7 linked regions of the Homo sapiens genome follow. The protein of the gene in region 2 purifies or fractionates together with the protein of the main gene of each other region. This does not show direct contact. Each region holds a gene or a part of one and is shown on either strand. Other genes may lie near its edges. The genes, in order: ZC3H14, RBM33, SAFB2, CAAP1, POLDIP3, ACIN1 and CDK8.

Evidence for each region.
Region 1: the proteins of RBM33 (region 2) and ZC3H14 purify together in Homo sapiens (affinity purification with mass spectrometry; one large-scale study listed by BioGRID and IntAct). This does not show direct contact.
Region 3: the proteins of RBM33 (region 2) and SAFB2 purify together in Homo sapiens (affinity purification with mass spectrometry; one large-scale study listed by BioGRID and IntAct). This does not show direct contact.
Region 4: the proteins of RBM33 (region 2) and CAAP1 purify together in Homo sapiens (affinity purification with mass spectrometry; one large-scale study listed by BioGRID and IntAct). This does not show direct contact.
Region 5: the proteins of RBM33 (region 2) and POLDIP3 purify together in Homo sapiens (affinity purification with mass spectrometry; one large-scale study listed by BioGRID and IntAct). This does not show direct contact.
Region 6: the proteins of RBM33 (region 2) and ACIN1 purify together in Homo sapiens (affinity purification with mass spectrometry; one large-scale study listed by BioGRID and IntAct). This does not show direct contact.
Region 7: the proteins of RBM33 (region 2) and CDK8 purify together in Homo sapiens (pull-down; one large-scale study listed by IntAct). This does not show direct contact.

The regions. Positions count from the first base shown.
Region 1 is NC_000014.9:88,573,037-88,576,536, forward strand, and holds part of ZC3H14 (zinc finger CCCH domain-containing protein 14), read left to right. Parts: intron 1-1,656; coding exon 1,657-1,817; intron 1,818-2,803; coding exon 2,804-2,904; intron 2,905-3,500. UniProt on the Homo sapiens protein: RNA-binding protein involved in the biogenesis of circular RNAs (circRNAs), which are produced by back-splicing circularization of pre-mRNAs.
Region 2 is NC_000007.14:155,777,161-155,780,660, forward strand, and holds part of RBM33 (RNA-binding protein 33), read left to right. Parts: 3' UTR 1-3,500. UniProt on the Homo sapiens protein: RNA reader protein, which recognizes and binds specific RNAs, thereby regulating RNA metabolic processes, such as mRNA export, mRNA stability and/or translation.
Region 3 is NC_000019.10:5,616,277-5,619,776, forward strand, and holds part of SAFB2 (scaffold attachment factor B2), read right to left. Parts: intron 211-3,500; coding exon 146-210; intron 60-145; coding exon 1-59. UniProt on the Homo sapiens protein: Binds to scaffold/matrix attachment region (S/MAR) DNA. Can function as an estrogen receptor corepressor and can also inhibit cell proliferation.
Region 4 is NC_000009.12:26,840,803-26,844,302, reverse strand, and holds part of CAAP1 (caspase activity and apoptosis inhibitor 1), read left to right. Parts: intron 1-1,655; coding exon 1,656-2,002; 3' UTR 2,003-3,500. UniProt on the Homo sapiens protein: Anti-apoptotic protein that modulates a caspase-10 dependent mitochondrial caspase-3/9 feedback amplification loop.
Region 5 is NC_000022.11:42,597,884-42,601,383, forward strand, and holds part of POLDIP3 (polymerase delta-interacting protein 3), read right to left. Parts: intron 1,911-3,500; coding exon 1,815-1,910; intron 1-1,814. UniProt on the Homo sapiens protein: Is involved in regulation of translation. Is preferentially associated with CBC-bound spliced mRNA-protein complexes during the pioneer round of mRNA translation. Contributes to enhanced translational efficiency of spliced over nonspliced mRNAs.
Region 6 is NC_000014.9:23,085,137-23,088,636, reverse strand, and holds part of ACIN1 (apoptotic chromatin condensation inducer in the nucleus), read left to right. Parts: intron 1-3,500.
Region 7 is NC_000013.11:26,393,629-26,397,128, forward strand, and holds part of CDK8 (cyclin-dependent kinase 8), read left to right. Parts: intron 1-2,656; coding exon 2,657-2,726; intron 2,727-3,500.

The sequences.
Region 1 (3,500 bases), on a different chromosome or scaffold from region 2:
GGCTAAAAATCGGCAGTTCTTGATACCAAATAATATATGAAGTAACTAAACACATATTCCAAGGCTGGGCACAGTGGCTCACACCTGTAATCCCAGGACTTTGGGAGGCCGAGGCGGGTGGATCACGAGGTCAGGAGATTGAGACCATCCTGGCTAACACGGTGAAACCCCGTCTCTACTAAAAATACAAAAAATTAGCCAGGCATGGTGGCAGGCGCCTGTAGTCCCAGCTACTCGGGAGGCTGAGGCAGGAGAATGGCGTGAACCTGGGAGGCGGAGCTTGCACTGAGCCAAGATCGTGCCACTGCACTCCAGCCTGGGCAACAGAGCGAGACTCCGTCTCAACCAAAAAAGAAAAAACAAAAAACAAAAAAAACACATATTCCAAATTTATTTTATTTTATTTTACTTTTTGAGAAGGAGTTTCACTCTTGTTGCCCAGGCTGGAGTGTGATGGCGCGATCTCAACTCACTGCAACCTCCACCTCCTGGGTTCAAGCGATTCTCCTGCTTCAGCCTCCCGAGTAGCTGGTATTACCCGCCACCATGCCTGGCTAATTTTTTGTATTTTTAGCAAAGACAGGGTTTCACCGTGTTGGCCAGGCTGGTCTTGAAATCCTGGCCCTGTGATCCACCCACCTTGATCTTGGCTCACTGCAACCTGTGCTTCCCAGGTTCAAGTGATTCTTCTGATTCAGCCTCCTGAATAGCTGGGATTACAGGTGTGTACTACCACGACCAGCTAATTTTTGTATTTTTAGTAGAGATGGTGTTTCACCATGTTGGACCAGGCTGGTCTTGAACTCCTGACCTCAGGTGATCTGCCCTCCTTGGCCTCCCAAAGTGTTGGGATTACAGGCATGTACCATGGCGCCTGGCCCCAAGTTTATTTTTAAATTGTTTTATCTGCTGTTTCTCATGCTATACCAGATTTTCTTCCCCATGGCTTGCTCCTAGAGTTCTTTTGTATCACATCTGTATACCTTTTTGGGATTTCCAGCATTTGAGATATTAATCTTAAATTAATTTGGGGGGTTTCAATCAATTTTAGATTGTTCATGGTAATTGCTAGTGAGCAACCAATTAACTCTGTTTTATTAGTTTCCTCAATAGCACTATATGCAGCTGTTGATAAAATAAATGTAAAGTTCTAATTTTTGTTTTAGCTAAAGGTTGACTGTTAGGGATAATATTTATATTTATAGTATTTATTTATTTATTTATTTTGATACGGTGTCTCACTCTGTCGCCCAGGCTGGAGTGCAGTGGCATGATCTTGGCTCCCTACATCCTCCACCTCCCGGGTTCAAGTGAGTCTTCTGCCTCAGCCTCCCGAGTAGCTCGGACTACAGGCACATGCCGCCACGCTCAGCTAATTTTTGTATTTTTATAGAGACAGGGTTTCACCATATTGGCCAGGCTGGTCTCGAAATCCTGACCTTGTGATCCGCCCACTTCGGCCTTCCAAAGTGCTAGGATTACAGATGTGAGCCACCACACCCAGCCTCATATTTATATTTTTACATAAAACCAAGAAATACTCTGTGAATTTCTCATATTACTGTGTACTGTTTTTTTCTTAAAATGGAAACATTTTGTGGTAGAACTCTTGTTATTTTCTGAGATTAGGTAAGCATAAATTTTATCTGATTGCAGGATGAAAACTTTCGGAAGAGAAAGTTGCCTGTGGTAAGTTCAGTTGTTAAAGTAAAAAAATTCAATCATGATGGAGAAGAGGAGGAAGAAGATGATGATTACGGGTCTCGAACAGGAAGCATCTCCAGCAGTGTGTCTGTGCCTGCAAAGCCTGAAAGGAGGTACCTTGAACATGGCTGTAAATTAATCTTTAACTGCCTTGGTGGAGTCTTCCTGATTTATTGAAGAGAATAATCACGAAAATAATTTTTGTTTGTTTTTTGAGACGGAGTCTCGCTCTGTCAACCAGGCTGGAGTGCAGTGCCACGATCTCGGCTCACTGCAACCTCTGCCTCCCAGGTTCAAGTGATTCTCCTGATTGAGCCTCCTGAATAGCTGGGATTATAGGTGTGCACTACCATGACCAGCTAATTTTTGTATTTTTAGTAGAGATGGTGTTTCACCATGTTGGACCAGGCTGGTCTCGAACTCCTGACCTCAGGTGATCTGCCCTCCTCAGCTTCCCAAAGTGTTGGGATTACAGGCATGAGCCACCGCACCTGACATAAATATTTAATGTAATACCGTGTAAGACTTTTCCATTGGGTTTTGAGAAACACGTTAATGAGAGAAATTGCTTAACATTGGAGAGGATTGCAGAGAATATTGACTAATATGGTGGGGTGAGGAGGAACAACATCAATTAAGATTCAGATTTATTATTTAAAAAAACTAAAAGGGGCCTAGGCATGGTGGCTCATGCCTGTACCTAGCACTTTGGGAGGCTGAGGCAGGAGGATTGCTTGAGACCAGGAGTTCGAGACCAGCCTGGGCGATGTAATGAGTCTTTGTCTCTTAAAAAAAATTAAAATAAATTAGTTGGTCATTGTGGCAGGCACCTGTAGTCCTGGACTGGAGAGGTGGATGTGGAAGCATTGCTTGAGCCTAGAAGTTTAAGGCTGCAGTGACATCACACTCCATCCTGGGTGAGAGAGTAAGAGTCTGTCTAAAAAAAAAAATAAGGTTCCAGTGTAGTTGGCATTTTCTAAAAACTGCAGCTAGTCTGTTTAAAACCTAGAGAAGGTTGTGGTAAAGGCATAATAGATGGCTGGCCTGTGAGGAACTGAAATTTAAAGTTTAATAAAAATACCTTTCTTAACTCTTTTAGACCTTCTCTTCCACCTTCTAAACAAGCTAACAAGAATCTGATTTTGAAGGCTATATCTGAAGCTCAAGAATCCGTAACAAAAACAACTAACTACTCTACAGGTAATTTAAATGTATTATGTTTACACTTGGTAAGACATTTCTGTAATTCTTGAGTAAGGTGAAAATGATTGCTCCTTAAATTGTAAAATAAAGGTGCCTGTCAGATGTCAAGACCAAGATGAGGTTCCCATATAGAAAAATGGCTTTAAAAGGAAATTGACAAGTTTGAGAAACTTCGCCAACTGTTATTGGACTGTAGTTTTTCAAGCACCATATAATGCCTTTTATATCTTTCCAATGTGTGTAAAATATATAGTACGTAAATATTTTGAAGAGAATTTTGATGAAGTAGGACTTTCATATTAGTAGCATTAGATTCAACATTAGATATGAATTTACGATGTGTAAAGGGGAGTACAATTGGACAATGATAGGTATCTGAAGTTATAGAAATTTGTTAAACAGTAGTATATAAACAAGGTTGGTTTCTTCCCTTTTGGCGGAACTCATTAGTAGAATATAAGGCAGAGAATTGACTCATTTGTGATGTTCCTGCTCCAATTCTAGTGGAAGTACTGAATAATTTTATGAGAGAATATAAAAGTATTACGTTTTCAAAACAGGAGATGAATCAGCTGTAAGCTGGTCTTACGGAA
Region 2 (3,500 bases):
TAATAAAACGGATCCTGTTTGGGCCTTCATTGTTAAGGTGGACTTCATGGCCACTGGAAGGTCTGTTTTGGTGTTACCTGAGTGTGACACAGGCCCTGGGGTGTGCGTGTTTCTCTAACTGTCTACACGTGCACATAGGCAGACTTTCTCATAGAATGTTCTTGAAAGGTGATTGGCAAAGTCATGCAGGCCCGCCTTAAAGCGCTGATTAGAACAGTCCAACACAGTCCGACCTCACTCAATACCCACAACCATCGAAAATGGATTCTTAGTACCAGACAATCCCAGTAATGAAGGTTTAGTTTCCTTGAAGGAAACTACAGAAAAGGAAAGAAGCAGAATGAGAAAGGAATGGTACTTAGGTGTTTGGTATGCTGCTCACGTGAAGTCAGCCCACACCAGCCAAACCCTCGTGGAAGATCTGCTGCAACCATTATCTTTGTTCTTGAGTTCATCATGCATTTAAAATGAGATGCAAGAGCATTTAGCATACCATGTAAATATGGACCTTTTAAAATTAAAATACTATTGGAAGTGCTTTCAACTCAGCCACATCTTAGCTATTAGTTCTTTGTGTTGTCTTATCAAAGTTTAATGGATACAGTTCCACAGTTGTTGATGTGTTTGTGTGTATATTCGATTTTTATAAAGATGGTAGTAAGTCAATACATTTATCCTGATCTGTGTATTATTTGTTCACAAATTCAAGAAGCTTAAAGGTCGTAAATATCAGTATCTCATAAGGTAAACCAATAGCTGATTATGTGGAGCCAAGTTACTTCTTTTCTTTTTGCATTATCTTGTTTTGGTTTTGTGCTGTAATAGAAGTTCACTTAGCTACTTTAGATAACCTTGCATTACCACTGGTCTGGCCACGTTTGTTAAATCCTTATACTGATATTCTTCTAAAGAGTAAATCTCATCATTTTTCCAGACAAATTTTGAGGGGTTTCTCTGTTTTGTGGACAGGCAGCAGCCTCCGTAGGCACCCGCACCCTGCCTTGCTGGAGGAGATGGGATGGGGCGGGAGGTGGCTTCACCATAACTATTTTTAATATGGGTCATTCTTAGCATGATTTGTAAAGGTCTCAGGCAAACAGTTGTTGAAGCTTGCTTCTGTGGCATTTCTGAATTGTGGCAGAGCTTAGATCCTGCACCCAGGGGTCTTTTTTTCAAACAGCATCTTGCTCAGTTCTGTGAACAGAAGGCTTTGTTACTGAAGGAGGTGGAAGAGGAGTTTAGGGTGAAAAGGAGGAAGGGATGGACAGACCCAGGTGAGGAGAGGCCTGGGGATTGGGGAAGCTGTCATCTCAGTGTTAATAATCAACTTGCTTCTAACACACTGGCTTATCAGGGGAGGTCATCCAGTCCGGTCGGTGGAGTTGAGAGCCCTTGGGCCAGGGTGTTTGGCGGCACAGGGGCATCCGCTGGATGGCCTGGAGGAGTGGGGGAGGGGAACGTCTTCACTGGGTGGTGATCAGCTGGGACAGTTCAGGTAGGGCAGGTGAGGGACCCCCGAGGCCCTGGAGCCTTGTCCTGGGATGGGTTTGAAGAACTCATCACTCATCACTTGTTTTCTTTTGGCTTTTGTTGTTTTTGTTTTGTTCTGTTTGTTTTGTTTTGTATTTCTTTGTTATTTTATTGGGAAGGTAAGCGGAATGTGCTCATAGACCATCAGACGCTTGTCGAAGGCAGGTCCTAGTCATGTAATTGCACAGGACAAGGAGGTCAGCGTGTGTGATGGCAGCATGCTGTGCCGGCACATCGTGGAGTCCTAGAAACTCTCTAGTCCCTGCGGCTGTTCCCCTCCTCTGCTCTCTCCCTGGAGAGGACTGCCAGCTCTTAAGAAACATTCCTGGTGCGGTGTCTGCAGTGCCCTTTGTGGGTGACTTCAGGCTTCCCGCTTTCGTGGTGCTCTTCCTGGGATTCGTTTTTTTATTACCCTCCCTCCCTACTTGTAGGCCTCAGCTATGGCTTGACGTAATCGCTTTTAGACCCAGGTTGGCTTCCCTTCATTAAGCTATGATCCTCCACCCCATTTTTTTTTTTTTTAATTTGGAGTGGGAGGGAGGGGGGTGGGCGAGAGAAAGCTCGAAAGGTATTATTGGTTTTTCAAAAAATTAGAGGTGACGATTCTACCAGGGAGTTGACTGATAGGAGTGTGTGCAGGGCAGGAAAGGTTCGGAGGCACCCGACTACCACCACTCGGAAAGCCGCTAGTCCAGATCGACTAGGGAGAGGCTTAGATACTTTAGTGTATTTAAAGAGCATTTCAGTTAACTTTTTCAGCTATTTTTAAAGTTTGTGAATGGAGTGTTATTTTGGACATTCTTAAATATGAATTCTCCAAAGGCATTTAGCCTTGACTTAATATTAAATCCTAAGGATTTTATGTAAGGTTTTTTTGCAACCTATTTAATTTTTTTTAAATGCCTAACTTCTGAGGTGCATAAGCCCGTGGTTTGTGTACTGGAACTAAAGCGGAACTCACTGATTCATATTGGATCCCCAGGTATACCTTCTGCTGGTAGCATATGGCTGGAAAAGGCCGTTTGCCTCACACATTGTAACCTGCCTTGGCTAGAAAATGCTTTTAATGTCTCAACTCTCTCTTTTCTGTGTCATGTTTTGGTAGGAAATCTTTAAGATTGGCGGACGGAACAGGTATTTTAGTGAGACACTTCTGAGTACTTGCTTTTTCCTTTGACTTCTAACCAACTAAAAGAGAAGGAGGTCTTCATGTTGATATTTTGCTTGGTTTTATTTTACTGATTTTAAAAGGTATATAGAAAAATGTAGGCCTTTAAAAAGAAACAGCATGTAGTTTTTTATTTTAATATGTTCCATAGAGTGGATAGGCAGACAGGTACTATTGTAATGTATTCTGTATTTAATAATTTAATATACTCTAGAAAGTAGACCTCATGCATTCTTTTAGCATGATTTTCTTTTAAACTGCTTTTCATTTTAAGGGCACCCGTGGCGGAAGCTGGTTTTGCAAGGACTGTGTAAGCTGTATGCGTTCTAGCTGTATGCGTTCTGTAGTCTTTTCTTAGGTGGGTAACATTTTCAATAACGCGCGCACAGCACACAGGGGTGCCCTGAGCCGAAGGAGCAAAAAAAGCCACCGCTCGTTTCTATAATCCAGCTTTGCTTTTCACAGGCGTGGGATCCAGGATGGTGTCCTCTGTGAGGACTTGAACTCTGGGGCTTTAATTCCACTGTTTAATTTTCAGGTACCACAGCAGCAAAGCACAGAGTGTGACCTTTTTCATGTCTGAGCTGATTCTGTTTGCTCCACGTGCCTGCTTCTTGCTACTGTTCATTTAGTAATGGGATCACCTCACCATGCCATGCTCTGGGCTCTCCCTCTCTGTCCATTTCTGTTTTGCTTTCCTGGCTAAACCCATCTACCATTCTTAACACTGGTAGCTCCTGTCCCATTCCAAGACTCACTCTCTCAGACCTTCCCATCTCCCTGGCTTTCCATGCTCCTCTCC
Region 3 (3,500 bases), on a different chromosome or scaffold from region 2:
ACACTCATGTCCATCATGCCCATATTCTGCAGGTTCTCCAGACTTGCTTCCATGTCCTCCTGTAAAGAGGAAGAAGAATCGTTAACGACCACCTGGACCAGGACAGGGAGCTGCTGCTTGTCATCTCTACCCTGACATCACTTACCTGCCCGTCTCTGGAATCGTCTTCCAGGCCATTATCTTCTGTGCCTTCCTCCTCCATCTTCAGTCCTAATTACAGAATAATTGTTCAATCAGATAACACTCAAGTTCTACCTCATAATTAGTTTATGCAGAATAGATTTCAATCTTAGAACAGAACACATTACAAGATAAACTATAAGTCTCCCCTCTCCTGTCACACGTAATTTTGTCTCAATTTGTTTTCTTTTTTTTTTTTTTTTTTTTTTTTTTGAGATGGAGTCTCCCTGTGTCACCCAGGCTGGAGTGCAGCGGCACAATCTCGGCTCACTGCAATCTCCACCTCCTGGGTTCAAGCGATTCTCCTGCCTCAGCCTCCTCAGCAGCTGGGACTACAGGCGTGCATCACCATGCCCAGCTTATTTTTGTATTTTTAGTAGAGATGGGGTTTCACCATATTGGCCAGGCTGGTCTCAAACTCCTGACCTCGTGATCCACCAGCCTCGGTCTCCCAAAGTGCTGGGATTACAGGCATGAGCCATGGTGCCCGGCCTCAATTGGTGTTCTAAGTAAGCCATCAACAGGGAGATGAAAATCTAGGATTCCTCTTAGATTCAGAGTACTCTGATTTTCCACAAAATATCTAAAAGTTTCCAAATATTTCAAAAACACTCCAAACCTAAGAAAAAAAATCACAAAAAAATGAGCAAAGGATAAAAACAGGCATTTTCAACAAACCAACAAAAAAATGCAATACCCATCTAGTAACCAAAGAACTGCAACATAAAATAACATATTGAGTTAGTGATTTGCTGGCTCTCCCTATATTCCACCCATTTCAAGTAGGTCTTTGTCATTTTTTAGCTCAAGAACTTTTTTTTTTCCCCCAAGGCAAAAAGGCAAAGGCTGCCATAAAGTCGAGAATCATCCTGGGTTTTGTGACCACAAAATAACTATTTGATAGAATTCTGCTAGGAATTGCAAAAGGAGGCCAGAGGAGTTCAAGAGTGGAAACCTTGAGAAGAAACTTGAGGCTCTATATGTATCAAAAACCTTACAAATGTGCATACCCTTTGTTCCAGGAATTTGAGTCTTAGGATATCTGACAAGGAGTTCAAAACATAGATATCTGTCCTATTATACCTGTTAAACACCCAAAAGGGAAACAAATTACAGCATATTTTCATTCAGATATGGTTCACAACCGGGGGGAATGGCTGGCAATGTCTGGAGACATTGTTAGTGGTCATGACCTGGGGGAACGCCATTAGCATCAGTAGCTAGTGATGCTGGTCACGACCCTGCAATGCACAGGATACTCCCCAACCCCAGAGAATTCTTCGGCCCAAATTGTCAACAGTGCCAATGCTGAGAAACCCTGTGGGACACCATCCAATGTCTCACAATATTTAAAGAATGTATGCTTTTAAAGAATATTTAATGAAACAGAAAAAATGCCCACAGTGTAGGCACAGTGGTTCACGCCTGTAATCCCAGCATTTTGGGAGGCTAAGGCAGGTGGCTCGCTTGAGCCTAGGAATTAAGAGACAAGTTCGGGCAACAAAGTGAGACCCCCATCTCCACCAAAAATACAAAAATTAGCCAGGCATGGTGTTATGTACCTGTACTCTGAATTACCGGTGAGAATGAGGTGGGAGGATGCTCCGAGCCTGAGAGCTTGAGGCTGCCACGATCATGCCACTGCCCTCCGCTCTGGGCAACAGAGTAAGACCGAGTCTCTCTAACATACACACCGATAAAGAAAAATCAAACAGAAAAAAATACATACTTTCCCGTCTCTACTAAAAATAGAAAAACAGCCGGACGTGGTGGCGGGCGCCTGTAGTCTCAGCTACTCGGGAGGCTGAGGCAGGAGAATGGCCTGAAGCCGGGAGGCGGAGCTTGCAGTGAGCCGAGATTGCACCACTGTACTCCAGCCTGGGCAACAGAGCGAGACTCCGTCTCAAAAAAAAAAGAAAGAAAATTAAACATAAAAAACCTGCAGGGTCTACACCTCAAGAGTCTCACTCACCACTATTATCAATAATCACTCAAGAAATGCAGTTTAATTGCATGTCTCGCAACGTGAGCTTTTTCCAGTCTATCATTTAAGACGCCTAACAACGCTAGCAGGTTTTATTATCTGCATTTGACACGAGAATTTGGTTGAGCTCCAAAGCTGGCACTCTAAAACTCAGCTGTCCCACTTCGCATTATATCTAAACACAGCATATCCTTTTGAAATACGTTGTCTAAAAATGTTTGGTAATTGCACCCAATTTCTAGGCCCCTAAATAGTAGCCTGCAGTGCCCACATAGGCCGGAAATAGGAGAAATGCTGACCAAAAAGCATCACAGAAAAGCTAATGTGGCGCAGACAGGCGACGCCCCAATCCCCGGCACCTGGCATTGGCCAACGAAAAGCTGCCGCTGCTGGGGACACAGATGTAAGAAAATCCAACTTTAATCCCACATGGCATCTAAAACTTAAATTTTTAATCCAAGTTTTATTTTTTCCAAACCCACCTACAATGTTGCCTAGGACTCCTAATCTTGGTGAAGACCCTTACTCTGATTTATAATGAGGACACTTTTCCCTCAACAAGTTTGGCTACTTCAGTTTTTGCAAGGAAGCAGTTACTGGTGAGTTCCCAGAATGAGTCCAACTTTGGACTCAACTGAACACTGCTGCATAGTGCTTGAAACGAAAATTAACTGGTGAATTCCTCCTGATCTAACAGTTGTATGTAATCACAGGCCCTAACTGCAACCACAAAGTCCTAAGGCTCTTGTGCTTTATCCATTAGCCACGTGCCCCGACACCTCTAGAGAACATCACCAGCTCAGGATGGAAGATGAGGCCTGCAGGGCCTGAGCACCACCTGAAGACCTGGGCTCTCTCTGGGCTTGGTTACTTCTCTGAAAAAGGAATGGGAAGGGATCAGAAGCCCTTCTAACCCTCACTAGAGCTGAGGCTACAAAAGTCCTTTTTATAGCAACAGAAGAACTTTATCATCCAAGCTTTCCTGACAAAACACTAACTCCAAGTAGTTTTGAATCCACCTAAGCTTTAATCTAGACATTCAGGCAGGTCTTCAAAGCACTCAGCTAAAGTTTAGTTTTTCTAATGATGCAAAGATCATTAGAAATGATCCCTGCTAGGCCGGGCACAGTGGCTCATGCCTCTAATCCCAGCACTTTGGGAGGCCCAGGCGGGTGGATCACCTGAGGTGAGGAGTTCGAGACCAGCCTGGCCAACATGGATGGTGAAACCACGTTTCTACTAAAAATATAAAAAAGTAGCTGGGCGTGGCGACGGGCACCTGTAATCGCAGCTACTCAGGAGGCTGAGGCACAAGAATCACTTGAACCCGGGAGGC
Region 4 (3,500 bases), on a different chromosome or scaffold from region 2:
TCACCACAACCTCCGCCTCCCAGGTTCAAGTGATTCTCTTGCCTCAGCCTCCCGAGTAGCTGGGATTACAGGCATGTGCCCCTACGCCTGGCCAATTTTGTATTTTTAGTAGAGATGGGATTTCTCCATGTTGGTCAGGCTGGTCTCAAACTCCTGACCCCAGGTGATCTGCCCACCTCAGCCTCCCAAAGTGCTGGGATTACAGGCATGAGCCACTGCACCTGGCCTTATTTTCTTAAATCTATTTTAGTCTCAAGTTAGAATACTTGTATAAAATATTGTTTCTTGAAAGGTTTTATTCAATTTTCTGTAGTTTTTTATGCTATTTGGAAATATTTGTTGCTTTGCGGACATATATAAAATGTTCTTTGCCATCAAATAAAATGATAATCTTATTTTTACAAGTTCTATTTATGGACACAAAAATAATTTTTTGTTTTATTTTCCACTTTAATTTTGGAATGGGGGTGGTTTTTCAATTATAAGCATGTAGGAGGATCACTGAAGGTCAGTAAATCATCATTGATTATAAAACCAATGGAGTATAATTGTTTATGTCCTTCCTGTACAGTCTGTTATCAGAATTTACCATCTGTCAATCTATGTTTTGTAAAGAAGCTTTCCCTACTGTAAGGAAAGCGCTATCAAAGCTTTCTTATATTAGGGAAAGCTAACATTTTGGGGATCATGACTTTTTAAAAAAAAAAACATATTCATGGGTGCAGCACACCAGCATGGCACATGTATACATATGTAACTAACCTGCACATTGTGCACATGTACCCTAAAACTTAAAGTATAATAATAAAATAAAAAGAAAAAAAAGAAAATGCAAGAAAAACACACAAAAAACATATTCAATATTTAAAAGATAAATTAATTAGGAATATAAGTGAGTATTCAAAGTTGCAAATGATGCCTGGAATTGAGTAGTATTCAATGCCAAGAACAAGGTGGTCGAGAACCATAATCTGTGTTTATTTATGTTGTTAGCATCAGTTATAGAAGTTTTATAACAAATGCATTTTTTAAAATTATGGTGAACTAACTTTGTTAATTAAAATCCTCGTCATTAAAACAAATTTTACCTTAGAAAATGGCCTTAGGCATTCTTCTTTAATTTATTGATTTGGAACAAAGTGTTTGAAAAAGCGTATGAAAAGATTGGGATAATTGCAATGCATATGTTGTCCTGCTTGCTGATGATACTTTTTCTTTTTTGTAGTTTATAAAGCAAAGTATTTAAACACCTTCTAGAATGAAATTTTACTGCTTGAATAGTAAGCCATACTGTATCCAGAGGATTTCCAATGTCAGCTTTCATTTTGTAGTGCAGAAGCTTTACTGTGATAAAAATGTTATGACATTTTAATTAGGAAAATAGATCATGGGTACTGCATATGATGGAAGAAATTTCTTAATGTTCCCATGTTCTACTAAATCAGAATGAAAAATACATTTGAATTTACATTACATTAGATCTGCTTTGAAGGTTGAGGAGTCAGGGGAAAAGAGGGTGGCATGGGGATTATGGAATGTGTTTGGGACTCCATAGTGGGAGGTGGGATCAAAGCAGTTTTTAAATTATAAACAGTAAGGAAATTGTGACCCATGGTATTTAGGTTACATGGATCTTTCTCCTTTTTTGGTTACAGGAAAAGGGGAAGATAGTGATGTACTCAGTATAAATGCAGATGCTTATGACAGCGACATAGAAGGCCCATGCAACGAAGAAGCAGCTGCTCCCGAGGCACCAGAAAATACAGTCCAAAGTGAAGCTGGTCAGATAGATGACCTGGAGAAAGACATTGAGAAAAGTGTGAATGAGATTCTAGGACTGGCAGAGTCTAGCCCAAACGAACCCAAAGCAGCCACCCTGGCTGTTCCTCCACCAGAAGATGTTCAACCTTCTGCACAGCAACTGGAGCTGCTAGAACTTGAGATGAGGGCAAGAGCGATTAAAGCCCTAATGAAAGCTGGTGATATAAAAAAGCCAGCCTAGGTATTTAACTTGATTTTGAATTTTAGGTATGTTTGAACAAAGCCACATCATTTAATTTTGTATCTAAAATTTATTTGGGGTCTTATATGTTATTTCTCATGTAACCCTTATTAGGACTCATTTTAGCCCTAAATTACCTGTGGCTGTTTCTTTTTATTTTTTTGACTACTTTTATATTATAAATGTGTGTTACTGTCTTATGAATTCATGGCAATATAGTTGGATAGCCTGGATACTTTGTTAGATGAGTATTTAGCTGTGTCTGCAAATCTTAAAAGCCATTAGCAAAGAGTCGTGGTATTTTTTTCTTTATTTTTAAATGTTTGGGCACCAAACCTAAAAGCAAAAGATTGACGAAGCATGTTTCTCTTAAGGCTACTTGTATTTTACAATACAATATTAAATTATTTAATTTGAGAAATTTAGTTTTGCTTATATGCACTTTTTAAATATATACTATTTTGAAGATTCCTTATGTAAATGCAAATTTCCTAGTTAAAACCGAATAACAGAGATCTGAAATGACTGAGAAAAACTTTTTTATTAAAGGAAGGAATTAATTTAAGGCAATTTTTAACTATGTAGAACTAATTGCCCATGTTTAATTATAGCAGACACGCCATTCTAACAGGTATTTGATACCATTGGATGCATTATTCTAGGTTTTTTCTTTAATAAAAATGGAACAAGTTTTCATTTACATTCCAAGCTGTCAGGAAATGAAGAATATTTTATTATCTAGGATTTTATCTGATGTAGTTGCTTAAAGATCTGATGTGCTATAATTCCATGAATCAGAAATAATAAAATGCTATCATTCTGGATCTGAAGACTTTTGATACTTTTTCAAAAGCAAAATTAATTTCAGGAACCTTTGATAAGTTGTTGTTATAATTAATCTAATTTTGTATAGTTTTTGTAAATAAATTACCATCCTTCCACAATTAGGGATGCTTTTATCCCCCCATCACTAATTGCAGTTGTTTGATACCAAAATAAATTTACGTAGAGATCCTTAACTTAAAATAAATTAATTTTTTCAAAAAACATAAATCTGGAACTGTTGTTTCTATATTTGATAACAAATACAGTATATTTTATTTATAAGCCATGGTCTACTGATACTGTATGAGGACTTTCCTTATATATAAAAGTTGCAGGGATTGTGTTTTATTAGCTGCTTTAATTATGTTAATTTTAGAGAGTTTTTAAATGGAAATAGAGGACATTTATGAAACGCTGGAATTGCAGTTACAAATTCTTTTTGTTGTTGTTGTTCCTGAACATGCCTTGGAATAATTCTACCATTTTTTCCCCCTCCATAAATCTTTCTAATAAAGCATAGAAAAAGCCTATATGATTTTAAATGCTTCTCTTAAGCTGGTAAACAGATTTGAGTTATGAGTTCATTGTTATTGCTTCAAGATGAAAAGACAGTGATATAATTTTTCTATTTCAACTTAAAAGTAATAGTTAATATGCTAAAGTAGTACAGAAT
Region 5 (3,500 bases), on a different chromosome or scaffold from region 2:
ATTCTCCTGCCTCAGCCTCCCGAGCAGCTGGGATTACAGGCACGCGCCATCATGCCCAGCTAATTTTTTATTTTTAGTAGAGACGGGATTTCACCATGTTGCCAAGCTGGTCTCCAACTCCTGACCTCAGGTAATCTGCCCACCTCAGCCTCCCAAAGTGCTGGGATTACAGGCGTGAGCCACCACGCCGAGCCAGCTTCATGTTTCTTTTTTTTTTGAGACAGAGTCTCACTCTGTCGCCCAGGCTGGAGTGCAGTGGCACAATCTCGGCTCACTGTAAGCTCTGCCTCCCAGGTTCACACCATTCTCCTGCCTCAGCCTCCCGAGTAGCTGGGACTGCAGGTGCCCGCCACCACACCCCGGATATTTTTTTTTTTTTTTTTTTTGAGACAGAGTCTCGCTCTGTCGCCCAGGCTGGAGTGCAGTGGCGCCTCTTGGCTCACTGCAAGCTCCACCTCCTGGGTTCGTGCCATTCTCCTGCCTCAGCCTCTAGAGTAGCTGGGACTACAGGCGCACACCACCACGCCTGGCTAATTTTTTGGTATTTTTAGTAGAGACGGGGTTTCACCATGTTTGCCAGGATGGTCTCGATCTCCTGACTTCGTGATCCACCCACCTCGGCCTCCGAAAGTGCTGGGATTACAGGCGTGAGCCACCACGCCCGAACTTTTTTGTATTTTTTAGTAGAGACGTGGTTTCACCGTGCTAGCCAGGATGGTTTCCATCTCCTGACCTTGTGATCTGCCCGCCTCTGCCTCCCAAAGTGTTGAGATTACAGGCGTGAGCCACCGCACCTGGCCCATATTTCTCTTAATTACTAACCAGGAGGCTGGTCCACATACTCAGGACAGTAACCAAAACTGAGTCTTTGAGCGTCTGAAGGAAAAACAAAAGAGGTGGCTGCCACAAGGACCCACCTAGGCAGCCCACTGGCCTCCCTGTCTGACACTTGGCTGTACCACTGAGCTGAGCAGCATGGACCTCCCTGATGATCCCAGATGTTGTTTTCTTTCCTTCTCTGCATGATGTCTGACCAACACTCTAGCCTAGCAAGCTTTCCCTGCATGCAGGCTGCACCTGGTAGAGCCCACAGATCAGGTGAGATGTATTCCTGCTAATGTTAACCAACGGAATCCAGACTCCAAGAGCAGCGCCAGAGCTGCTGACCACAAAGGGTTACGAAGCATGCAGAATGGCCAGCCACCAAGGAAAGAACACAGACTCCCCACTGTGGGATCACTCACACTTTCCCTATAGTGTCTCAAACACAGCACCTAGGAGCTGCAGCCCTGTACTTCACTTGCTGTGGGACCTTGAACAAATCAGAAGGCACCCCAGTGTCTCAGCGTTTATAAAACTAAGGGAATGGACTAGTTCCAGCTCTGAAAATCTTACGGCCCAAACAAAGAAATATTTCTGCATTGAAAGGCTCTATTCACGCCGGGCGCAGTGGCTTACGCCTGTAATCCCAGCACCTTGGGAGGCCGAGGCGTGCGGATCACCTGAGGTCAGGAGTTTGAGACCAGCCTGGCCAACATGGTGAAACCTCATCTCTACTAAAAATACAAAAATTAGCTGGGCGTGGCGGCAGGCGCCTGTAATCCCAGCTACTAGGGAGGCTGAGGCAGGATAATAGCTTGAACCCAGGAGACGGAGGTTGCAGTGAGCCAAGATTGCGCCATTGCACTCCAGCAGCCTGGGGGAGAAGAGCGAGATGTCGTCTCAAAACAAAAAAAACAACAGGTTCTATTCAACACGACCTCTCCCACCTGCCTGATCAGACACGCAGTGTAAGAAAACATGAAATGCCATACCATGTGGTGGAGAAAGCCGCCTGAGGCTGCAAACTTCATCTGTTTAGTAGGAACGGAAGCTATACCATCATCATCTTCATCCAGGTCATATAAATTCTGAGAATATAACATAAAGAAATATAAGCAAATGTGGCATCTGGGCCCTCAACAGACATCTAGAACAGGCATGGCAAGGAAATGGCTGCTGGAGAAACAAAGGGACCAAGGAGAAGTGGGCACAGGGGTGACGGTGCCTGGAAAGACTGGGGCCCAAGTCTTCACAGGCTAACTCCCTGTCAGCAAGGACCCAGTGAAAGTCCTACAACTTCCAGATACATCAGAAGTCCCTTTTTCCCAGTGGGCAGTATGTACCAAGAGTCCCTAAAATGTTTCTTTATATCCTTTGGCTTGGAAAGTCCATCCTTGTTAATATGACCTACAGAAATAAATCCAAACCCTAGAAAGAGCTTTATTTACAAAGATGTTCACAGCAGAAGGATTTCTAACAGTGAAAATGACAGGAAAATGGTTTAAATAAAACTGGAATGCCAACTATATAGATTTTGCAGTTACTAAAACATGTACAGTAAATATGAAATGTCACAGAGAAATGCTTGAGTTACAAAGTGAAAAAAGAATGATACAAAATTGGATAAGAATATAACCATGGCTGGGCTCAGTGGCTCAAGCCTGTCATCCCAGCACTTTGGGAGGCCGAGGAGGGCGGATCACGAGGTCAGGAGATCGAGATCATCCTGGCTAACATGGTGAAACCCCGTCTCTACGAAAAATACAAACAATGAGCCGGGCATGGTGGCATGCGCCTGTAGTCCCAGCTACTCGGGAGGCTGAGGCAGGAGAATGGTGTGAACCCGGGAGGCGGAGCTTGCAGTGAGCCGAGATCGTGCCACTGCACTCCAGTCTGAGTGACAGAGCGAGACTCGGTCTCAAAAAAAAAAAAAGAATATATAACCACAACCACAACTATGAGTTAAGTAAAAAACAGACTGGGGCTGGGCACAGTGGCTCACGCCTGTAATCCCAGCACTTTGGGAGGCCAAGGTGGGCGAATTACCTGAGGTCAGGAGTTCGAGATCAGCCTGACCAACATGGAGAAACACCGTCTCTACTAAAAATACAAAATTAGCCAGGCGCGGTGACTCATGCTTGTAATCCCAGCTACTTGGGAGGCAGAGGCAGGAGGATCGATTGAACCCAGGAGTTCGAGACCAGCCTGGGCAACATGACAAGACTCCATCTCTACAAAAATTAGCCAGATGTGGTGGTATGCACCTGTGATCCCAGCTACTCAGGAGGCTGAGGTGGGAGGATCATTTGAGCCCAGAAACTCAAGGCTGCAGTGAGCCATGACTGCACCACTGCACTCCAGCCTGGGGGACAGAGTGAAACCCTGTATCAAAAAAAAAGAAGCGTACATGTAAGGAACTATGGCAAAATTTCAACAGTGACTGGCTTTGGAGAATAGGAACTTGAGGGACTTTTTGGCAAGTTTTCTATATTAAGCACATAGAACTTTTATTTAAAAAAATTAGGCCGGGCGCGGTGGCTCACACCTGTAATCCCAGCTCTCAGGGAGGCTAAGAGGCGGGAGGATAGCTTGAGCCCAGGAGTTCGAGACCTGCCTGGGCAATATAGCGAGACCCCGTTCTCCAGAAAAAGGAAAAAAAAACAAAACAAAAGACAAAA
Region 6 (3,500 bases), on a different chromosome or scaffold from region 2:
CACCATAATCAGTGTTTTTAGGATGTATGGAGGTTTCCAGCTCTTCTGATTAATACAGAATTCCTTCATGGACTACACTTGATTTTAGTTAAAAGGCTGAGCAGCGATAGACTCTTCATGGAAATAGATTTTTTAGGAGACATTTAATGGTGGGAAAGAAATTTTCCAAAAGGCTAGAGAAAATAGAGAGCCTTTGAGTCTAGTTTTAAGGTCCTGTTTTACTCAGTCCCTGTTTTTCTTGATCCTAGTCTTAGACCCAGAAAGACATTTCTAGAAATCTTTTAGTAAGAAAATACTGGCCAATACTTTGGAATTATTAAGTTCCTTAGGGACCTCTTTTCTCCTGAAATACGAGAGTAGTAGACCCTCAGCTGATCCACTTTGCTCCCTGCGCCCTTTCCCCCTTGATTTTAAAGCCGAGAGGAAAGAGAAAGCTCTTCTAAAATTGTCGGTATTTCTTCTCACATAAAACAAAAAAAAATTTATTGAATTCCTACTGCATACATATCTCTGTGAGAGTATATTGGGAGTTAGCACAGCATAAAGTCTGTTAGGAAGAGAGAACAATTACACATAAATCGAACAACAGAAGATAGTATGTGACAATGATACAGACATAGGGAACCAAAAGAGTGGAAGAGCTCTGAGGACTACAGTGATTAGAGAAAGCCTCATAAGGAGATACAGGATTTGAGCTGAGCCTTAGAAATGGTTTGGCAGAGAGGATACAAGAAGATATTTTTAGGAAGGAACAAAGTCAGAGAGATAGGAATGAAAATGGTATTTTTAAAGGAGAGGTAGTAGACTAATCTAGCCAGAGTAGAGTATTTCACATTCAAGAATAGTCAGCAAAACAATTTAAAAGGTAGATGAGGGTGATACACAGAGGGCTTTAAATGCCAGGCCAGTAAGTATGAGGGTTTTTTTTTTAGTTCTATAGGTAATGGGGGAACCATTGAAAATTCTTAATAGGACCATGATTTGATAAGGACCTCTCTTTAAAAAGAGAGGCTGTCAGTTCTTAATATAATTCGAAATGAAAATGAGAAATGATTTCTGAAATAGATTTCAAAAGCAAAGATTTAGAGTAAGGGTAGCCAATCTTTTCAGTGCTTTATGTCATCAGTAAGACCCTGCCCATGGCTAATGATTGATGGAGGAAAAAAAAAACCCCAGACGTTAAAAAAAAAAAAAGGTGAAAAATAAATTGGAAAATATGAATGTGGTAAATTGTAGAGTACTGCTCATAATTGCCGTAAATGCTCTTCAGTGTCCTTTATGCCATAAACTTTTCTACCTCTGATCTTGGCTTAGATAAGAATCCCATTATAGATGTTGTACAAAATTTAGTTAAGGTCCTGAATGGAGTGGCCATTTGGAATTCTATCAGTGCTTAGTTGAATCAGCATTAACCCTAGTGTTTGTCCAGAAATCAGATTCTTCCAGGTATAGAATCTCAGTCTGCCATATGCCAGTATGCCATTGCAATGGCAGCTTATTTGTTGGCTTTGAATGTTTTGGGGTTCTCTCTTGAATAACAATTTTTGATTAAGTTTCCTACTAACATTTTTCTAAACGCTACTGGCACCTGAGGGAGATTTTTTATTTGTTTTAATATTACTATGTTTAAGAATATGGATTCCTGGCCCCTACCCAAAGAATCTCAAGGAATGGGAGTCCTGGGGCTCTACATTTTTTAAAAAGTCCCTGAGTGGTTCTGTTGACCAATTCATTTTATGAATGACTAACTGAAGGAAGAGTTTTTCAGTGTTATAATTTATCAAGATCTTTGGTTTATATTCCAGCATCCTCCTGTTTATATGCTATTGGCAAAATTCCAAATAGGAAGGAAGAATTGGTTTGTCCAGGTGTGGTGTCTCACACCTGTAATCCTAGCACTATGGGAGGCTGAGGTGGGAGGATCTCCCAGGAGATTGGCCTGAGCAACATAGTGAGTCCTATCTGTACAAAAAAATAGAAAACATTAGCTGACTGTGATGGCACATGCCTGTAGTCCCAGCTACTCGGGAGGCTGAGGTGGGAAGATTGCTTGGGCCCTAGCAGTCAAGGTGGCAGACAACAGAGTGAAACCATGTCTCAAAGAAATAATTGGTTTATAAAATCCTGTCTGACTTTCCCTCTTATGTCTCCATCACTTTCTTCAGATATTTCTAAGGTGTTAGGACTCATTATCCACCTACCATAGTCATAAATTGTCTGAATTTCCTTCTATATCATGACTGTGTGTACAGAAATTCTTACCGTCCTTAATTTTTTCAAAAAGAGCTCAAACTAAGAAAATACATTTTTAAATGCATATTCAGAATATTGATTCTTTAACAAAGGTGATTTTAGCCAGCCTTTGGCTTATAGAGTATGCCCCTCATTCCGTTTTCTCCATATTAAAACCTGGATGCGGAAATTCTAGAGAAATGCTAGGTAACTTACTTACAGGTCTAACATGAGTCAGATTTAGGTTTGGCATTGTTTCCAGGTCTGTATTCTCTTCATTCCTGCTTCTTATTCACACCTAAGGTTACCTTTTAGCCACAGGCTTTTCTTCGATCTCTGGCTTCCTTACTTTGGTCCCACAAATCCTACCCAGGAATTTGTTTTCTAGGATGAAGAACTATTTCCTCTATAACCCTTAAACATTCTGCACTTTAATATATCCTGCATTGTCTAGCAACTGCCTTTTCCTTTCTGTGAAGCCTTCTGGCTTTGGACTCTTGGAAATCTAATATTTACCCTGACTTGTTTTTCGAATCCTGAAATGTATTTATTAGCCTGTTATCAGTATCAGCTCCACCCTTAGCTAAAGCGCTCACTGTCTACACGTGTTACTAACATCTGGCCTAAGACATTCATTGTGGCCATGTTCTTATAATAGAAGATATCACCTTTTTCAGAAGTTTGTCTGCATCACATCAGCTCTTTCCAAGGAACTAGAGATTCCTCATCTCTTTATATTTTGCATTGCTGACTAATTTCTTGTTTCATGTCTGAGGCGCCTCCAGTTTCTGCTTTTATTGCAAAACAGTGATGACCAGAACTTTCTGAACAGCCCTGTTCATTTCTCCAGATCTCTTTGATGACTTACTACAAGTTCTTCCAGAGGAGTAATCATCCAGAAATCCTATCACTGCAGTTTTACAGTATCAAAAATAACATTATAATTCAATAAATAGCATATAATTCACAGTAGGTAGATAAAGAGGCTGTTTTGCTTGTACATACTAATTTTAAAATTGCAACTCAGTTATTTGACTTTGTTGTTGTTGTTCTTGTTGTTGTTGTTTTTTGAGATGGAGTCTCGCTCTGTCGCCCAGGCTGGAGTGCAGTGGCGCGATCTCTGCTCACTGCAAGCTCTGCCTTCCAGGTTCACGCCGTTCTCCTGCCTCAGCATCCCAAGTAGCTGGGACTGCAGGCACCCGCCCCCACACCCGACTAATTTTTTTTTTTGTATTTTTAGTAGAGACGGGGTTTCACCATGGTCTTAA
Region 7 (3,500 bases), on a different chromosome or scaffold from region 2:
TTTTGACTTGCATTTATCAAAGATCCGTAGAAACAGCAAAATTTGTAGAGTTTACATATTGGCATGGAAATATTTATGGGTTTCCTGAATTTCAGGACTGTATTTTTGTTTCATCTTGTTTTACTTTTTTGTTTTGTTATTTGGTATTTGAAATGATAAAATATGTTCAATATCTGTATTAAAAAGGTACCTTTAGCTCTTACCAGTAGAAACTATAAATGAATTCAGTAGTAGGAATTTTTTTCTGGCAGCACATATAATACTGCCACTATTTGGCATTCAAATATAAATTTTGAACCTTATTTCTATTTAGGGCACTATACAGAATCACATTATATTGAATAATAGCATTTAAGTCTTCTCTTAGAACAGTCACAATGTGGGTGAGAGTCATAGTACCCTATGGTGAGTTAGCCTGCTGTTTTGCAACAGAGAGATGGTTTACATGTATCCTATCCCTGGTATTAGATCTCTCCAACTGTATCTCAATCCCTAGTTATATTACAGAACGGTAATCACCAAAAACTGCTCAGAGGTCCAGAATAATGAGAATTTGTTTAAAACACCTAAATTTTGGCTAGTCAAGTACTTAGTAGAAAGTGTTTCTTATTAGGAATATTTCTCAGGTCACTATAAACTCAAGACTAATAGAGATAATACCTGGGACTTTTAATTCTACATTCCCTTGTAAGGGTGTTAATTATCAGTAAATGCAGAATAACTACACAGATACTGCCTTTCTCCAAAATTGGTCACCAGTGTGGAGAAGACTTCTGTTGTGATGGGAATTTTATTTATTCAGTAAATATTTATTGAGTACCTGCCATGTGCCAGGCACTGTCTTAAGTAAAAAGTTATTGATGATGTAACAGACATGATTTTTGCCCCCTTGGAGTTTGCATTGTACTGCTATATGTAGAATGTTTAAAAAGTAGGTATGGTTTTGAGTAGAGACAGAAGAATTCTGTTTTCTTCCTGCTTCTGAATGTGTCCACCATTTCTGAGCCCACGGGAAAGGCATAGCTTCTGTGAGGGAGTAGATGTGGTGAAGATGTCTATCAGTGACTCTTAATATGTGGTTCAGAGGTTAGGGTGGTTTATAAGGAAGCTTGGAAAGCAGGCAGCAGAGGTTAGATTTGATAGCTAAAGAATGAGAATCCATCAGTTCTTGAGTACTAGAGACATGCTTTATGTTGCATTTTAGAAAGATTTAGTAAGATGGTGGTAGGTAAAAATCTGTTAAAAAGAGCTAACTGAAATCAGAAACCAGCTGTAGCAGTGCTGCAGACAGAAAGTAGAGTGAAGATAAGGATGGAGAAAAAAGGGCAGATGGAAATGTTTTATAGGAAGTGTATAAGCAAGGGAAAACTAAAGATTATCTTAAAATTTCTAGCATGAGAAATTGATAAAACACAGAAATTGGAGCAAGGAAAATAGTTAAGGAGAAAATTCCATTTAGGAGTGTAGTGTATGTTTAGTTTACAATATGTGATGTCTTTGGAGGATAGTTACCAAATATTTTTACAAGTAAGTTCAAAGAAAAGCAAGCCTCTAAAGGCCATTTAAAAGCTAAAGGTTTTGCGAGGCCGCGGTGGGCGGATCACCTGAGGTTGGGAGTTTGAGACCAGCCTGAACAACATGGAGAAACCCCGTCTCTACCAAAAATACAAAATTAGCTGGGCATGGTGGCTACATGCCTGTAATGTATTACAGGCATGGGATTACATGCCTGTAATCCCAGCTACTCTGGAGGCTGAGGCAGGGGAATCACTTGAACCTGGGAGGCAGAGGTTGGGGTGAGCCGAGATCGCACCATTGCACTCCGGCCTGGGCTGTTAACAAGAGCGAAACTCCGTCTCAAAAAAAAAAAAAAAAGAGCTAAAGGTGCTGTTAAGCTGCCTGTGACAGTCCTTTGCACCTAGTAGACTCTCAGGAAAACCCATTGGCAGATATTGGAGAGAACACATTATGTAGCATGTATTGTTTGAGCAACTTGGATGCCAGCAAAAGTAGCTGAAACGTTTTGTACTTAACGTATTTAGGAGCTGGGGTTGTTTTGGGTAATGTTAACCAGACTAGCCAAGGTACCAGCCCACTTATTAATATACTAATTATATCCTACCCTATTGTGCAAATAGTTATTACCCCTTCTTCCATTGATTGCTTATGTAAAGAAATATATTTAACAAGGTGAAAGGAGGGCTGTATCATAAAAAGAAGTATAGTTTAAAGCCACTGAGGGGAAGATCTTAGATTTCTCATTGAAGAAATTGATTGCTGACTTAACCAAGAAATTTGGTAGAAAAGGGGAAATAAGCAGTTTTACTAATAGAAAGAGGACATTTAATAAGATAAATAGAAATATGTATAACTTATTCTTCTCTAGTGACAGAAATTGAGGCAGCTTATAGTAAAACATACAGAAAGTTTGCAGTTTAAAATTTAAAATATAAACAGATATATAAAGTTATATAAGGGATAAGGAATTATGTTTACACTTCAAGATATTTACTGTTGCTGAACATTTATTTGAAGACAGCTTTTTTGTGTGGAGGTTGAACGGATAGGAAATGTAATGAACGTGGTAATAACCTTTTTAAAAATTCTCAAGAATAGGAACTTAGGCAACATAAAAATTTATCAATGTATTTCACAGATAAAGATTGGGAAGATATAAAAAAGATGCCTGAACATTCAACATTAATGAAAGATTTCAGAAGAAATACGTAAGTTGGAAAAAAAGAGACTCCTTGTTGATTTTTGCTTTACCAGAATACTCAGTGTAAGACTGAATATTCAACATAATAAAATACTCAATATAAGATTACTCTAATAAATAATTTTACTTATTTACTCTAATAAATATTTTTCATGATGACAGTCTTTATTTCTTAAGATGCTTAAATGATTATATACAAAAGTGACTAATATTAGCAGCTGATTTGGATATAAAACAAATTCATGTCTTTCCATATTGACTACTTTTTGGAAGCTAGACATTAGTGAGAAGTATCACAGCTGAATAAATAAGAATCTAAATAAATAAACTTTGGTAATAGCCACTTGCTCACCAATCTAGGTTACAGTAATTTTAAGCAGGTTTTAACAGAGAAGAATGGATATTTCACCTGTTTACAATGCAAAGCCAGGGATTGGGAGAGTTTAGTTTGTATACCTATGACAAAAGTATTTTACACTTATTGGTAAGGCTGAATTAAACTTTTGACCCAGATGTTATTTAAAATAATTGTTAAAATATAATTCATGTGAAAAAAAAAGCTGTTTAGTGTCTGTTATTCATGAAATTGTCTTACATTTAATCATCGGTATCCTTTCAAAAGTGACCATTGTGGATATTGAATGAAATAGAAAACTGATTTAATTCTACTCATTTTATGCTCATAGTGTTTTCAATATATATTTTATATCGGTTATGATCAAAATAATTCTCATCAGAAGGACTTTAGCCAATGTACAATTAACCTCAAGTCTAATATAGC